Regions from separate parts of the Homo sapiens genome. Here all the other regions are linked to region 3. The links come from fine-mapping of genetic effects on gene expression. A gene starts in region 3. Each other region holds a variant in brackets. All regions are shown on one strand. Distances are from middle to middle. Region 1 overlaps MPDZ (multiple PDZ domain crumbs cell polarity complex component). Region 2 has its middle 39 kb from the start of MPDZ. Region 3 holds the start of MPDZ (multiple PDZ domain crumbs cell polarity complex component).

Region 1 (5,230 bases), 23 kb before region 3:
ATTAAGTAACTTGTCTAAGGCCACATCGCTAGTAAGTGATGGAGCCAGGTTCTTAACACAAGCCATCTAGCTCCAGAGTCCACAATTTAATTTCTACAATATGCTGCCTCTAGAAAGCAAGATTTAACTTCCCTGTTTCCAAGTTCAAATAGACCATGCTCTACATAAAGTGAAACCAAAGGAAGAAATAGAGACCCAAAATGAATAAAGTCTGAAATGGAATAGACTGTTGTAGATAGTCAAATTAGCCAACTGTTCAGACAAGGTATGAAGAAGTCAGAATTATGTATATTAGAAACCACCGGTCGGTCTATCAAAGAAAGATCAGGAATATTCGCCATTTATGTAATGTTAATGTCCATACATCTTTAAACAAATCACTTTTAAAATCCAAGATTTTAATAAAAACCCTTAAGAAGCCTCTTTAAATAGTTATTCAAAGTACATTCAAAAACATTGCTTTTACATTTCAAGGTACTAAATCCCTCAACACAAAGAGAATTAAGAATACACAGTATATTGTTGTAATTGTTCAATTTTATTATTAGTTGTTGTTAATCTCTTATTGAGCTTAATTTGTAAATTAAACTTTATCATAGGTATGTATTTATAAAAATAAAAAATGGAAAAAAAACATGGTACAAGCATATCTGAGATATTGCAGGATCAGTTCCAGACCACTGCAATAAAGTGAATCTCTCAACAAAAGGGGTCACATGAATTTTTTCATTTCTCAGTGCGTACAAAAGTCATGTTTACACTACACTGTAGTCTATTAAATGTGCAGTAGCATTATGTCTAGGAAAACAATCTATACACCTTTATTAAAAAAGTTTACTGTCAAAAAATGCTAGTGATCATCTGAGCCTTTGGTGAGTCACAGTCTTTGAGCTGGTGGAGGGTCTTGCCTTTGTGTTGATGGCTGCTGACTGACGGGTGGTGGTTGCTGAAGGCTGTGGTCACTGTAACAATTTCTGAAAATAAGACAACAATGAGCTTTGCCACATTGATTGATTCTTCCTTTCATGAAAGATTTCTCTGAAGCATGTGATGCTGTTTGACAGCATTTTACCCACAATAGAACCTCTCAAATCCTGCTCCTACTTTATCAACTAAGGTTATGTAATAGCCTCAACCCTTTGTTTTCATTTCAACGATGTTCACATCTTCACCAGGCATACATTTCATCTCAAGAAACCACTTTCTTTACTCATCCATAAAAAGCAACTCCTCATTCATTCAAACTTTATCATGAAAGTGCAGCAATTCAGTCACATCTTCAGACTCCATTTGAAATTCTAGTTCTCTTGCTATTTGTAACGCATCTTCAGTGACTTCTTCCACTGAAGTCTTGAACCCTCAGTGTTATTCATAAGAGTTTCAGAATCAACTTCTTCCAAAGTCCTGGTAATGTTGATATTTTGCCTTCCTCCCATGAATTACAAATATCTTAATGGCATTTAAAGTAGTGAATCCTTTCCAAAAGGTTTTCCATTTACTTTGCCCTAATGTAGCAGAGGAATCATTAAGTACAGAAGCTATAACTTTACAAAATGTACTTTTTCAATAATAAGACTTGAAAGTCAAAATTACTCTGTGGTCCAGGGGCTGCAGAATGGATGTTGTGTTAGCGACATGAAAACAACATTCATCTCTCTTGATGAAACTCTATCAGAGCTCTTGGATAACCAGATGCCTTGTCAATGAGCAGTAATATATTTTATAAGAACCTTTTTCTGAGCAGTAGGTCTCAACAGCGGGCTTAAAACATTCAGTAAACCATGCTATAAACCGATGTGCTGTTATCCAGTCTTTCTTTTTCCATTTACAGAGAACGCAGGCATAGCAGATTTAGAATAACCCTTAAGGGCCCTAAAAATTTTTGAAATGGTAAATAAGCACTGGCTTCAATTTGACATCACCATCTGCATTAGCTCTTAATGAGAGAGCCTCTTTAAAGCTTTGAAGCCAGACATTGACTTCTCCTAACTACTTAAGTCCCTGATAGCCTCTTCTTTCAATATAATGCTGTTTTATCTACATTAAAAATCTGTTGTTTAGTGCAGCCACCTTCATTAATGATCTTAGCTAGATCTTCTGGATAGCTTTCTGAAGGCTCTACATGAGCACTTGCTGCTTCACCTTGCACTTTTATGTCATACAGATGGCTTCTTTCATTAAACCTCATGAACCAACCTCTGCTAGCTTCCAACATTTTTTCTGCAGCTCCGTCACCTCTCTCAGCCTTCACAGAATTGAAGAGAGTTAGGGTTTTGCTCTGTATTAGGCTTTGGCGTAAGGGAATGTTGTGGCTGATTTGATCTTCTATCCAGACCACTAAAACTTTCTCCATATCAACAATAAGGCTGTTTTGCTTTACATGCAGTCACTGGAGAAGCTATTTTAATCCTTCAAGACCTTTTCCTTTGCATTCACAACTTGGCTGTTTGGCACAACACACTTAGCTTTCAGCCTATCTCTACTTTCAACATGCCTTCTTCACTAAACTTAATTATTTCTAGCTTTTGGTTTAAAGTGAGAGGCATGCAACTCTTCCTTTCACTTAAACACTTAGAGGCTATTGCAGGGTTATTAAATAGCCTAATTTCAATACTGTTCTGTGTCAGGGAATAGAGAGGCCTCAGAAGAGGGAAAAAGAATGCGAACGGCCCGTTGATGGAGCAGTTGGAACATGTGCAACATTTATTAGGTTCACCATCTTAAATGTGCAGGGCTGTAGCACCCCAAAATAATTAAAATGGTAACATCAAAGATTACTGATCACAGATCACTGTAACAGACATAATAATAATAAAGGGCATGAAATATTATAAGAATTAACAAAACGTGACACACAGACACAAAGTAAGCATGTGCTGTTGGAAAAAAATGGCACCAATAGACTTGCTTGACACAGAGTTGCCATAAACCATCAATTTATTTAAAAAACATGCAATATCTGCAAAGCACAATAAGACAAAATTCAATAAAACAACATAGACCTGTATATATGGGGTAAGGTCCTATGTTTGGTTTCAGGCATCTACTGGGGGTCTTGGAATGTATCCCCCATGTTCCAAGGC[G/A]TGGGACAACTGTATTCAAATCTGGTACAGAAAAAATACCAGTTTCCCTCTAGCTGCTGTTCATGTATCCTGCTAGTGGCCATATCACTATTTGGTTATAACTGAACCTAAAATCTGTTCCAATAGGCTTAGCTCTCAGAACCATAAGACATACCAATAACAGCTCAATGAATTCAATATCTGTTAGGCACCAGAGTGCTAGGCAAGTGCAGTTTATACACGTTCCATCATGCATGTGGGGACTCTGACCATCTTGCTCCCCACAATAGCCTCCCGTGCCTGACACATTATTCCAGATAACACAACAGAGAAAAGGACAGGTCAAGGTCTTACTCAAGGTCAAACAGCTAGTAAATGGGAGAACTTGGAATTGAACCCTACTGTCCCTTATTTTAAAGCCCAAACTCTATCACACTACCCATATTTTCCAAACTGTCTCACAAAAATCACACGGTGAAAATATATTGTCAAATTTATAAAAAAGAAGATACAGAACAAGGTATTAAGTTGCTACACTTTGTACAGAAGAAGAGGAGGGTAATTGCTTAGGTAAGTAAAAATCGATTGGTGTATGTTTATAGAAGCATAGACTATTCTGCAACTTTTTCAAAGACAATGATAGTGGGATATGGCAGGGCTGAAGGACACTGAGATAATCTTACTTTGCACTGCATTACTTTTGTGTTTATCAAATTTTATACCTTAATAGAGGGTTGCCAGATTTATCAACTAAAAATACAGGATGCTAGTTAAATTTGAATTTCAGGTAAATGAATAATTTTTTAGTGTATGTCCCATGCCACACTTGGGACATATTTATACTAAAATCCAATTTTATCTGAAATTCAAACTTAACTTGGACATCTGTTATTTTATCTAACAATCCTACTATGTACATGCTAGCTTAGAAATAACAACATATAAAATCATTTTAGCTTTCACGCTTCCTGTAAAACTTTAATATAATGAGACAGCTGCCTAATCCTTAATAAATCTCAAAGATTTTACCTGTGACCATATGATTCTCCAACAACTTGTTGGTAACACTAGTGTCAGAAGGGGATAAAAATAAAACAGAATATTTGGTATTATTTAGAAATAGGAACTGATTAACTGAGTAATCATTTTACATTTCAACAAGTTGTAATGGTAACATGTAGGCACAGCTTTTACGAAGTAGAGAATCAGCGTTTGAAACATAACACAAACCATTCTGCTCAATGCAGATTATATGGCAACTAACAAGTGAAAATATGTTTTAGGCTAAAAATAACTCTATGAAGAGAAACTGCCCAAATGCATACAATTTTCTACTTATCTTAAACAATTCTGACTGAAAAAGGAATACGACATTAAAAGGGCTTGTTTCAATGGCTTGCAGCTTGTCAGAGTTGCTCAGCATCTGTTTTTGCATTTAAATTTACCATTTCTATCATTCATAGTTGCCTCAGCAGTACCTGAAGTAAGCAGACGAAGGCACAGTTGTAGTCAATTGCAAGTAGTTTTTCATAAATCCAATTGTCCATAACAGCAATATTTATACTTTCAGTCATAATTCCTACTTTTGGGTAACATTACTGAACTACAGCTCTAAAAGTATAGAAATGTCACAGTACCCACCAAATCATGTAGTCATCCAACAGAAATCACTCAGTCTTTTCTTAGCATCTGTTCTTCTGAACTTCTCCCTCATTTTTATAGGCTTTGATCAAAAAAGCATTCATGAATACAATTTTTATTTTCAAGTAGACATTTATAAATCTTCCTAAATTTATTCAATGAAAATAAGATTAATTCAATTTTGCCCACCAAAATGAAAGAAAATCAAGTATTAAAGAACATTAACTTCACAACATACTTCAAATACTGATTAATATTCTTGTTCTTTCTTTATGAAACTGCCAGATAAATTACCTGAAATGGAAATGCTGTAGTCCCAGCTACTGGGGAGACCGAGGCAGGAGAATCGCTTGAACCCAGGAGGCAGAGGCTCAATACAGCTCAATCCAATTTTATCTGAAATTCAAACTTAATTTGGACATCTGTTATTTTATCTAACAATCCTACTATGTACATGCTAGCTTAGAAATAACAACATACAAAATCATTTTAGCTTTCACGCTTCCTGTGAAACTTTAATATAATGA
Region 2 (5,230 bases), 39 kb after region 3:
GAAACCCTGTCTCTACTAAAAATACAAAAATTAGCCAGGCGTGATGGCGCATGCCTGTAATCCCAGCTACTCAGGAGGCTGAGGCAGGAGAATCGCTTGAACCCAGGAGGCAGAGTTTGCAGTGAGCCAAGATCACGCCATTGCACTTCAGCCTGGGCAACAGAGCAAGACTCTGTCTAAAAAAAAAAAAAAAAAAAAAAAAAATTTAGATGTATTTCTAATAAAGATTTAAAGATTTCCATAGAAATATTTAAAGGAGAATTTGAGTCACTAACTATAATGCATATATAGAAGGATAACTATTTAGTGCTTCTAATTAAAGATAGTTCAATAAAGCATGCACATCTCCCTTTACTCCTTACTTCACTCCTTGCTAAAATGAGAGTAAATGAATATGGTCATATTTTCAAAAGGCATAAATAAGGGTAAAAATATTGGGAGAGGAGACTACAATAACAACATTCTGAAAATTAGAGATGGAAAGCTGCAAAACCACTTGATTTGTGTTGCAGGCTTGGAAATTGGTAACACCAGGAACTTCTAGAAATGGGAGTAGGAGTAGTACAAAAGGAGTAGAATTGACTGCAAGTGTGTGTGTGTGTGTGTGTGTGTGTGTGTGTGTGTATTATTTTTGACAGAGTCTTGCTCTGTCACCCAGGCTGGAGTGCAGTGGCACCATCTTGGCTCACTGCAACCTCTGCCTGGGTTCAAGCGATTCTCCTGCCTCAGCCTCCCAAGTAGCTGGGATTACAGGCTCATGCCACCATGCCTCAGCCTCCCAAAGGGCTGGGATTACAGGCATTAGCCACTGCGCCCAGCCTGAATGCAAGTATATTTAAGCAGAAGCAGGCTCCAAGACTCCGTAACCCATTCCACAAAGCTAGATTGTGAACTCTTTCCTAACATGGCAGAACACTGGGAGGTTATTCTTTGTGATACCAAACGTCTTTGGCCCGGAGAATATTGGGCACAGTTGAGGGCCAGGATACTGTACTGAAAACAGCAACATTAAAATGTAGACTGGATAATTAGTTGTTAATATCCAACAGTCTTCTCCTTAATTCAGTTCCCAGAGCATGACCTATCCTCTTAAGCATTGTAAGACCTATTTTTATCTTAAACCTGATCTATTCTCTGACCTGTTTTCTTAAGCATAATATTAGAAAATTATTTATGGAAGAATCCAGTCAATCCAAGGTAAAATTCCTAAAGAGATTGCTATTAGATGTTCCCCCAAACCAAAACCAAAACCAACAAAAAAAGAAGAAAAAGTGATTGCAGGTGAGGTTCCTCAGGAAATAAACTCTGAAACAGAGATTAGCTTGCAGGAAGTTAATTAGAGAGCACTCATGGGAACCACACTCACGGAAGGAAGGAAAGGAAAGGAAGTAGGATTGAGGAAAGGTAAACTGGACTGCGGTCACACCTCAAGCTGATCCCATGGGGAGTTCTGAAATAATAATGGTTTTTCAAAGTTGTCCTGCAATATGACAAGCATGGTGGGCTTTTATACCTTCATGCTGACCAGTCACTGGATGCAGGTTGCCCCCAAGAAAAGAGTGTGACTTTGGTGAGGAAGTTTTCTTTAGTTGAGAGCAATTTCCAGAGCTGCCAAACAGCTAAGGACTGTCAGTGGCAATACTCCTAGAAGCTGGTGAAATAAGTTCTTCAGTTCTGAAGGGGGAGCTGGATAGCACCTGCCAGATCACCCCACATGTGAATCCCACACTTGTCCATGTGCATAAGTTTCCTATTGGCTATTTAGTGTCTGTATCAGGCAGGAAAGGTTATGCTGCTGTGAAAAATGCAATGTTCTGGCTCAGTCAGTTTCAGTTTGAGACTAAGGCTTCTTGGCAATAGCCTCTATATGGAACGTTGCTGGCTTTTTGCATGTAGGAAGAGCACATGTTATACCAT[G/A]TACTGATTCTTAAAGCGTTTGCTCAAACGTGACAGGTATCACTTCTGTTAACATTTCATTGGTTAAAGCATGTCACATGGCTAAGCCTAAGGTCCTGAAGTGAGGATATATCATACCCCCTACATCAGTTAATCTATTACCCTAGAGCTTAGTGAGTCAATACAATATGTATTGATGTGTTGTTTTTCATATTTTTAAAGGTTAGCTGGGCTCAGCATGGCGATTCTTCTGCTCCTGCGGCATCAGCCAGAGTCAGTGAGGTGGCTGTATTCAACTGAGAGCTCAGCCAAGGCTAAAATATCCAAGATATGACCTTTTTCCATATATGACAGCTGGTAGCAGTTGTCGTTTAGTTAAATATTAAGTTGAAATATTTCAGGAAACAAAGCACAAGAGGAAAAATAATGGAGAAAAGAAAATAAGAGGATCAGTCTGGGAAGTCCAAATTTTCAATAATCAGAGATGCAAAGATAGAGGATGAAGAAAATCAAGAAAGATAAATTACTGTGTAAATAATGTTAGGAAATTTCCCAGTAATAAAGGTCATGAGTTTTCAGATTACAAAGTCACCCTGATAGCAAAATGGGTAAAAATGATCTAAACCAAGCCACATAATTATGAAATTTCAAACATTTGGGATAAAAGATAAGAGCCTATATGCTACTAAAGAGAAAACACAGTTTCATTTAAAAGATCAAGAATCACAATTTCACTGGACTTAGTAATAGAAATACTGGGAGTTAGAAGACAAAGGAGATTGTTTTCAAATTCCAAGGGAATAAGATTTCCAATTTATAACTTTAAACTCAATTAGCTACCTATCACAACTAAGGGTATGTAACAATATTTTTCAGGTGTGCAGAGTCTCAAAATATTATCTTTTATTTACCAAAATAAGGGAGTAAATCAAGAAAGCACAATGCATGCAAGCCAGGAAGCAAGAGATTGATTAGAAAAGACAGAAAAAGGAATATCACAAGATAATAACTGCCTTCGAGGGCAAACAGTACAGACGAAAAAAATGAAATTCATTGAAGACTTAATATATTTGAACAAACTGGAGAAAATTAACATTTCTAAGAGAGCGTTTACGTTTGAGTTAAAATGAGTAATTTTATGGTTCATATTTAAATGACATTTACATAGCTGTAAAAATATAACCCTGAATATTGAACTATATTGAAAAGTATGGGTGAGGAAATGTGGAAGGGGAGCAGTTTAGAATGGGATGCATGGAATAAGAATTGGTGAAAAACTAAACCCTCATCTCCTCTAGTGGGAGGTAAATAGATAAGTCCTGTAACTGAAATATTAAGAATTGAAACTACTCATTTTATTTAGAAATAGAAAGTATATCTGTATTAGTTCATTCTCATGCTGCTAATAAAGACATATTCGAGACTGGGTAATTTATAAAGGAAAGAAGTTTAATGGGCTCACAGTTCCATATGGTTGGGGAAGCCTCACAATCATGACAGGAGGCAAAGGAAGAGCAAGGCACCTCTTACATGGTGGCAGGCAAGAGGGCATGTGTAGGGGAACTGCCCTTTATAAAACCGTCAGATCTCATGAGACTTATTCACTATCAGGAGAACAGCATGGGTAAAACCCGCCCCCTTGATTCAGTTACCTCCCACTGGGTCCCTCCCACAACATGGGATTATGGGAGCTACAATTCAAGATGAGATTTGGGTGGGGACACAGCCAAACCATACCAATATCCCAATAGAAACATCTAAAAGAATAGACTCTTCAATTCTGTGAATTAATAAATTCTCTTTTTTGCTAAAGTCAATTTGAGTTGATTTTTCTGGGGTTTTTTTGGTTTATTTTGTTTTGATTTTTGTTTTTACACTAAAAGAATCTTGTCCAATACATATACACATATTCTCAGATCCCACAACAGAATTTGCAGAAATATTTTGAAAAACTTCCCATGTGATTTTGATGCATAGTTTGGTTTGGGCATCACTACTCAGAAGGACTATGATCTTAGCAATAAGCTGTATTCCTTCAGTAAGGAGTCTAATGAACTCATCTTTCAAATTCTGATAGAGATGATAGCTCATGTTCCAGCACACCTCTTCACTTTTCTTCTTATCTTCAGCTTAGGAAGCAAGATTTTATCTCACATATTCAAGTATGAAATAGTGATGATAGGAGGAGAAAGAAATACATTGCTTTCTTAGGGGGAAAAAAGAACCCAAAACAAAAAACAAAGGACTTGAAGAAATCAGGAATTTTGTTATCTGATAAACCCATAAATTTCCTCATGTGCTTTGAACTTCCTGACTCCCTCTGCTCCTTTGCCTCTGTGCCCCAAATCTGGAAAAACGTTTTAGTACTTTATTCTTTATAAATAAAGCTGAGCAAGGGTAGTGCCTTCCTTCTATGAAGAATCTATTTCTTCTGCCAGGAGATATTTTACCAGTTGAACTGAATCTGTAAATTCACTTAATAAAATGGCCAACTGACATTCTTTATTACTATGTCACCTGATGAACAAATATCTCTCCATTCCAATTCATTCTGTAGAAAGCAGAATTCTCTTAATATCTACTATATCAGTGTTACTGACATAAAATTGAGATTGAAATGCTTAAATAATAAAACCACCAAGTAGTTGCGGACAGGGAAGAAAGTCCCAATTATCGATTGCTGCATAACAAACCATTCAAATTTTAAATGGCTTAAACAATGGCCACTTTTTAATATCTCATGATTTTGTAGGTCAGAAATTTGTATTGGTCTAGGTGATTATTCTGTTTCATGTGGCATGAACATAAGTCACTCTGAGGAACTGAGCTAATGAGTAGACCAGTCTGGAGGGTCCAAGGTGGCTTTGCTTGCATGTCTGTTGCTTGTCAGAGGATAGCTGGAAGGCTGAGTTCAGCTAGGACTGCTGACCATAGCCTCTATACATGGCATCTCTAGGATGATGATCTCAGGGTAGTTGGAGGTATATGACTGGCCAGGGCTTCTAGAGGAAATGTTCCAAGAGATCTGGGCTGAAAATTCAAGGCTCTGACCTTAGGCACAGAAGATCCAGAATATCTCTTTTGTTATATTGTATTGGCCAAGGAAGTCATTAAGGCCAGCCAGATTCAAGGGGAGGGGAATTAGACTCATTGCTTCTTAATGAAAAGATTAGCAAAAAATTTGTGGCCTCTTTTAACCTACCACAGAAATTATCACTACACTTACATTTCTGGGAATTGGAAAATCCCTTACTACCTACCATCAATCTAGAAGTTATTCTTCCTACAAAAAAGTAGAAGAGTTCAGGCAGTGGCTCACGCCTGTGATCCCAAC
Region 3 (5,230 bases):
ATGCATCTGAAAAGGAAAGATGTCTTTAAGGGTCAAGCAGAGCAATGTCTAGGTGATAGGACTTTGAAGCACACTAAAAATTGACTAAAGATCCCTCCCTTTCCAAGCCACAACCTTCAGGCCTAGTCAATAAAAAGGAGTGTGGTAAAGGGACAAAGAAAACCAGAACTAGAGAAGGTAAGTGAAAAGAATAAACACAGAAAGGATCAAAGGAAAAAAAAAGGAACATATGTAAGAAATAAGGTACACCATAATCTATTAGTAATATGTTGAGAATAATCTTCATTAGTTTGTTTGTTTTGGCAAATGAGATAGGGAAGAAGAACGGAGAGTCAAGGGGTACCCAAAACTAGTTTTGCCTACATTGCACACAAGGGTACAGGTGCCTCCATCCAAAGCTTAGTATTGTATTAGAAGATCAAGTCAAGGAACGTTTTGCTAGGCTTTTATTTTTATTTTTTATTTATTTACTTATTTATTGAGTCAGAGTCTCGCTCTGTCACCCAGGCCGGAGTGCAGTGGCGCGATCTCGGCTCAATGCAACCGCTGCCTCCCGGGTTCAAGCGATTCTCCTGCCCCAGCCTCCCTAGTATCTGAGACTACAGGTGCGAGCCATCACGCTCCGCTAATGTTTGTATTTTTAGTAGAGACAGGGTTTCACCATGTTGGCCAGCCTGGTCTTGAACTCCTGACCTTAAGTGATCCACCCACCTCGGTCTCCCAAAGTGCTGGGATTACAAGCGTGAGCCATTGCGCCTGGCCAAGTTTTGCTAGGTTTTTAAAACACTATTGTTTGCCAAAATTCCATCAGGTGCTAAGGCATACATTATACAAATTTAGATAGTTCCAACATTACAAGATGTTCATTGTAATCACTCATACCCAAATTCAACATGTAAAACTCCCAAGCCCGAAACCATCACCTCCTCCTCGTTAGTTTTCAGATAAGGTGTTATTTATTCTATAAAGGGTAACCTAAACCAGGAATTTCTAGGGAAACACGAAGGGGATGTTTACATCAAACTGTCTACAAGGCAGGACGAGGCAGTCTGATCACTTATCAGATTCCTTCTCTATGACATCAAGGAACATGGAGAAGTTTTCCTTCTACGCTGGTGAAGTCATGGTCCTCTTATCTATCTGATGATACCTAGGAAACACTAGCCTCCAACCGCAGCCCCTACTGCAAAAAGGCAGTCAGTGCCCATTGCCGGGGTCTTCCCAAGCGGAGCACCTCAAAAGCCGCACCGCGCAGTAGAGGTCTCCAGGGGCCCCCACTCGCCCCCAGTGACTACGGAGCGGCCTCTACCTCCCGCCGGCGCCTGGCCACTTCTCCTCCCCCGCAGTCTCCGCTTGATTTCCATGTGACTGCAGGCAAGAATAGCCCAGCCTTTGTGCCTCTGCAAAGAACGCAAACAAAAATGTACACCATCACCACCCAACAAACGCGCAACTCCGCAAGACACAAAGCGTCTCCCAAACATCGCTTCCCTGGTAACATCCGGCATCCTGGGGCTGCCAAATCGCAGACAAAGACGCCCATCAGCGCGGGGGGTGAGGAGACTAAGGGAGAGACAAGACCAACGTGCTCCCACCAACGGGAGCGGCGGTTAAAAGGGCGCCGGTGCCAGGGGTGAGGGACGGGGCACCGGTACCAATTAGCGGCTCGCCTCGGGGTCCCCGCGGCTAAGGCGAGAACGCAGGACCAGGAGCATTGCTGCCCACTCTCTACCGCAACCCGCACATCCCGGGACCACGTAACGGCGGATGGGGCGTCCGGGAGCGGCCCCTGCAGGGGAGAGCAACAGGCTCCCGCGCCCTGGAGGCCTGGTCTGCGCTCCGGGCCCCCAGGCTAACACCCCACCCCCAGCCCCCCGACACCAAGACTGTGCCCCTCTGGGTCAAGGAAAAGGAAAAACTTTTAAACCTCTTAGTCAGCGAGAGCAAAAGAAAGGGGTGGCGGGGGTGCTGAAAGGTCTAGGATTATCCACCGCGGGGCTGGGGGGAGTGGAGACTTGCGAGTAGCAAAGGAAACTTCTAGACCCCATCCTTTTAAAAAAGCCACAGCAGCGGCTTCCGCGAAGCGCCGGGCCGCGCGGGGTGGGGCAAGCGCACCGCCCCACCGCCCCACGGCCCGCCGCCACCCCTACCCCCACCCCCACCCCCACCCCCATCCCCGCCCCCACCCCCACCCCCAAGCGCCGAGCCCAGGGCGCCCGCGCACCTTCCCCGCCGGCGCGCGCGCAGGGCGCGGGGGCGCGCCTCGGCCTCTGGGCCGGGGCTCAAGCGCCGCTTACCCGGCTCGCGGCGCCCGCCCAGGGCCGCGACGCGAGGGGGCGGAGGACTGGGGAGCAGGGGTCGCCGGGGCCTCTGGATGCCTCGCCTCGCCCACGCTCACTGTCTTCTCTTCTGAAGTAACGACCCGGCGAGGAGCTTCGGATCAAAACGCACAGACACTCACGCGTGACTGAGAAACTTAATCCCGCGGTGGCCCGACGCCAGCCTAGCGCTCCGCCGCGCCCCCTCCCCCAGCGCGCGCCGCACTTGCGCCGACCGGGGCTGCCGCGGAGGCGGTGGCGGGGCCCAGGCTGCTGGGGCTGCCGTGACGCCTGCGACCGGCGGGGCGGCGGGCGCGCCTTGGCCAATCAGGGGACGCGGCCGAGCAGGCCTGTGCGGGGTTTTAAACTCGCTCCTGGGCCGCTCGACCTGGGGTGTGGGTAGTGGACTTGTGAGGTGGTCAGATAAAATATAGGCTGCTCTGTTAAATGGGAATTTCAAATAAAAAAAAAAAGGAATAATTTTAGTACAAGTATATCCCATGCAATATTTGGGACGTACTTATGCTAAAAAGTTCTTCGTTGTTTATCGGAAATTCAAATTTAATGGCAGTCTTGTATTTTTATCTGCCGATTTTGTCAACCTGCGGAAACTGATAGCCTGTTTCTAGCTCCTCAGATTTTCCTTATGTGCACTGCCCTGTGGATGCTTTCTGCATGGGTAGCTTACTGAATGGCATAGGATGCTTATGAGAAGCGCTTTAATCAGAAGGGTGGGGGCAGTCCTCTCACTTTCTAAGTAACTTTTCGCACATCAGGGTGCATTCTTAGTCTGATGATCCAATTAAAAAGCAAAAACAGTAAACATGGAAAAGTTATTAGAGTTGCATGGCCCCAGGAAGAACAGATATTCATTTCTATTTTGTGCCACTTAAGATTTTCTTTCTGTTATCCTCAATTTGGAAGTCCCACGAATTTTTTTCTGCATAAGAAACTCTTTTTCAAAATATCCCTCTGATATTAGATTATAGGACCAAAGGATACTCAGAAGTCCAATTTAGAACATTTAAAAGAATTTCTTTTAATATTCTGAATAAAAATACTTTTTTCTCATATTCCTTGGACTTTCAAACACATTCACAGCTGTTGACCTCTCTCTTCCTAGAGTCCTCCCCACCCCACCCCTCTTGTAATTCCATGCAATCACACTCTTGGTTTTGCTTCTTCCGCTTAGTCAAGGGCGGATGTATGGGCTCTGAAGCTTGTACAATTGGGAGCTCTGCTTTAACCAAAAAAAAAAAAAAAATCTTTCTTTAGAAAAATTCAAAAAATAAATGCCCATGTAAACACATTGCTAGGGTTGCTCCCAGGCAAGAGAAGGACCCGGAACGTTAAGCTACATCAATTTCCAGGTAGATCTGCCCCTGTCCCCAGGCCACTCTTCAGTCTTCTTTGCCTCCTCTCCCCCAATCTTTAGATGCTGGAATTCCTTAAAAATCAGTTACGGGCCCTCTTTTCCTTTTAACTCTTACCTCTAAATACATTTTCACTTCTAGCTTATGATCTCGTACCTACAGAATCTTACATTTATACCTTCAGATTTATCCATATATTCAAGTGTTTATTTGGCTTCCCTGTTTGCTTGTCTCAAACCTAGATTGCAAAAAAAAATGCAGCCGTGATACTTCTGCTCAAGCCTGGTCATCTTGTTCAGTGTCCCAGTGAATGGAACTGCCATAGATGCTACATGATTCCCACAAACTACGATAAACCCATTGTGATGCATTCTTATGGTACCCTATGCTTTTGCTTCATAATATTTTTCCTACTTTGTAAATATGCATTTGATTTTGTAATTATGCAATGTCTCTTCCCTCTTCAACCATAAACTCCATGAGAACAGGGGCTAAGTCACCATTTTATCCTCAGAGCCTAGTAAAAACTTCACACTTGGTTGGCACTCATATGAAATAGGATGAATATACGACTGCAAGAATGAATAATTTCTCCATATAACTTTTGTGTTCTTGTCATAGAGTCACCTCAAGGCATCCCATTTGGAAAGGATTTTCTTATTGCTTAGAAATTCCAAAGGGATCCTCCTGTTTGAATAGCACTTCTACTTGTCAGTTTTCAAATCTGGTCATTCTCAAATACAAAGGAAGTACGTGCATGAAATGTTAGCTGCTGGGGTAGTGTAGGAGGAAAAGAATTTCATAACTAGCTACTGAAGGAATTCTTTGAGTCCTAAAATTTTAAATGGCATTTTTTATATTGAACCATAGGGAAAGAGCCCATAAAACTGAATTAGAGGAAAGTTTTAGAAATTTAATTCCCTGGTTTATTGTGGATAAATGAGATTAAAACAAATAATTTTACCTTGGTTTAAAAGGTGCTATTGTTCTAGTCTCCTTTAGCGAAGCAAAGCCCACATGCCCTCTTTAAACAGCAGTATATCAGAGGATAAAAAGGCATCTGGTTTAGATTAGTCCTTGCATAAAATTATCCAGAGTTTGGGGATAATTCCACCCTGAAGCTTCTCCTTTTGAAGTTAATCCGTATAGCTATTGCTCTATTCTCTTTAACTTGTTCTAATCCAGAAAACCTAAGATTTTCTAGAAATCCACCGGGGATATAGTGCACTAGTTTAAAAAAAAATACCTAAAATAAAAGTTAAAAACATTAAAGTTGAAATAAAATCTTGCAGAGAAAGACAAAGTGTAAAGCAGATAGAGTAGAGGTGCTCTACTCTATGGGATGGCTTGAAACCCCATACGTAAATAGATTAATAATGCTTTCTATTTCATGTTAATACAGGCTCTGGGGTCATTCCACCTATATCCTCAGTGAGGCATTCTCCACAATAATTTGTTTTTCTCAAATTTGAGTCATATTCAGAGGACTTTTATAAGGGAAAAAGTCCTGGAAACTTCTGAGATTGGTTTAAATTATTA

Evidence for each region. PIP is the estimated chance that this variant, and not a neighbour inherited with it, causes the effect.
Region 1: its variant is fine-mapped to the expression of MPDZ in fibroblasts (GTEx, PIP above 0.99). The same link has a PIP of 0.9 or more in atrial appendage, gastroesophageal junction, ovary, subcutaneous fat, sun-exposed skin and tibial artery.
Region 2: its variant is fine-mapped to the expression of MPDZ in pancreas (GTEx, PIP 0.91).

The regions. Positions count from the first base shown.
Region 1 is chr9:13,253,949-13,259,178 of GRCh38, forward strand. The region is part of intron 1 of MPDZ (multiple PDZ domain crumbs cell polarity complex component); the gene reads right to left. Among named protein-coding and RNA genes, the nearest start is that of MPDZ, 23 kb to the right of the region's middle. The variant G/A (reference allele first, on the strand shown) is at 3,084.
Region 2 is chr9:13,316,090-13,321,319 of GRCh38, forward strand. No RefSeq gene overlaps it. Among named protein-coding and RNA genes, the nearest start is that of MPDZ, 39 kb to the left of the region's middle. The variant G/A (reference allele first, on the strand shown) is at 1,918.
Region 3 is chr9:13,277,103-13,282,332 of GRCh38, forward strand. It overlaps MPDZ (multiple PDZ domain crumbs cell polarity complex component), which reads right to left and starts at 2,590. Exons shown (of 47, transcript NM_001378778.1): 1 at 2,298-2,590. RefSeq lists enhancers at 66-781, 782-1,497, 1,498-2,213.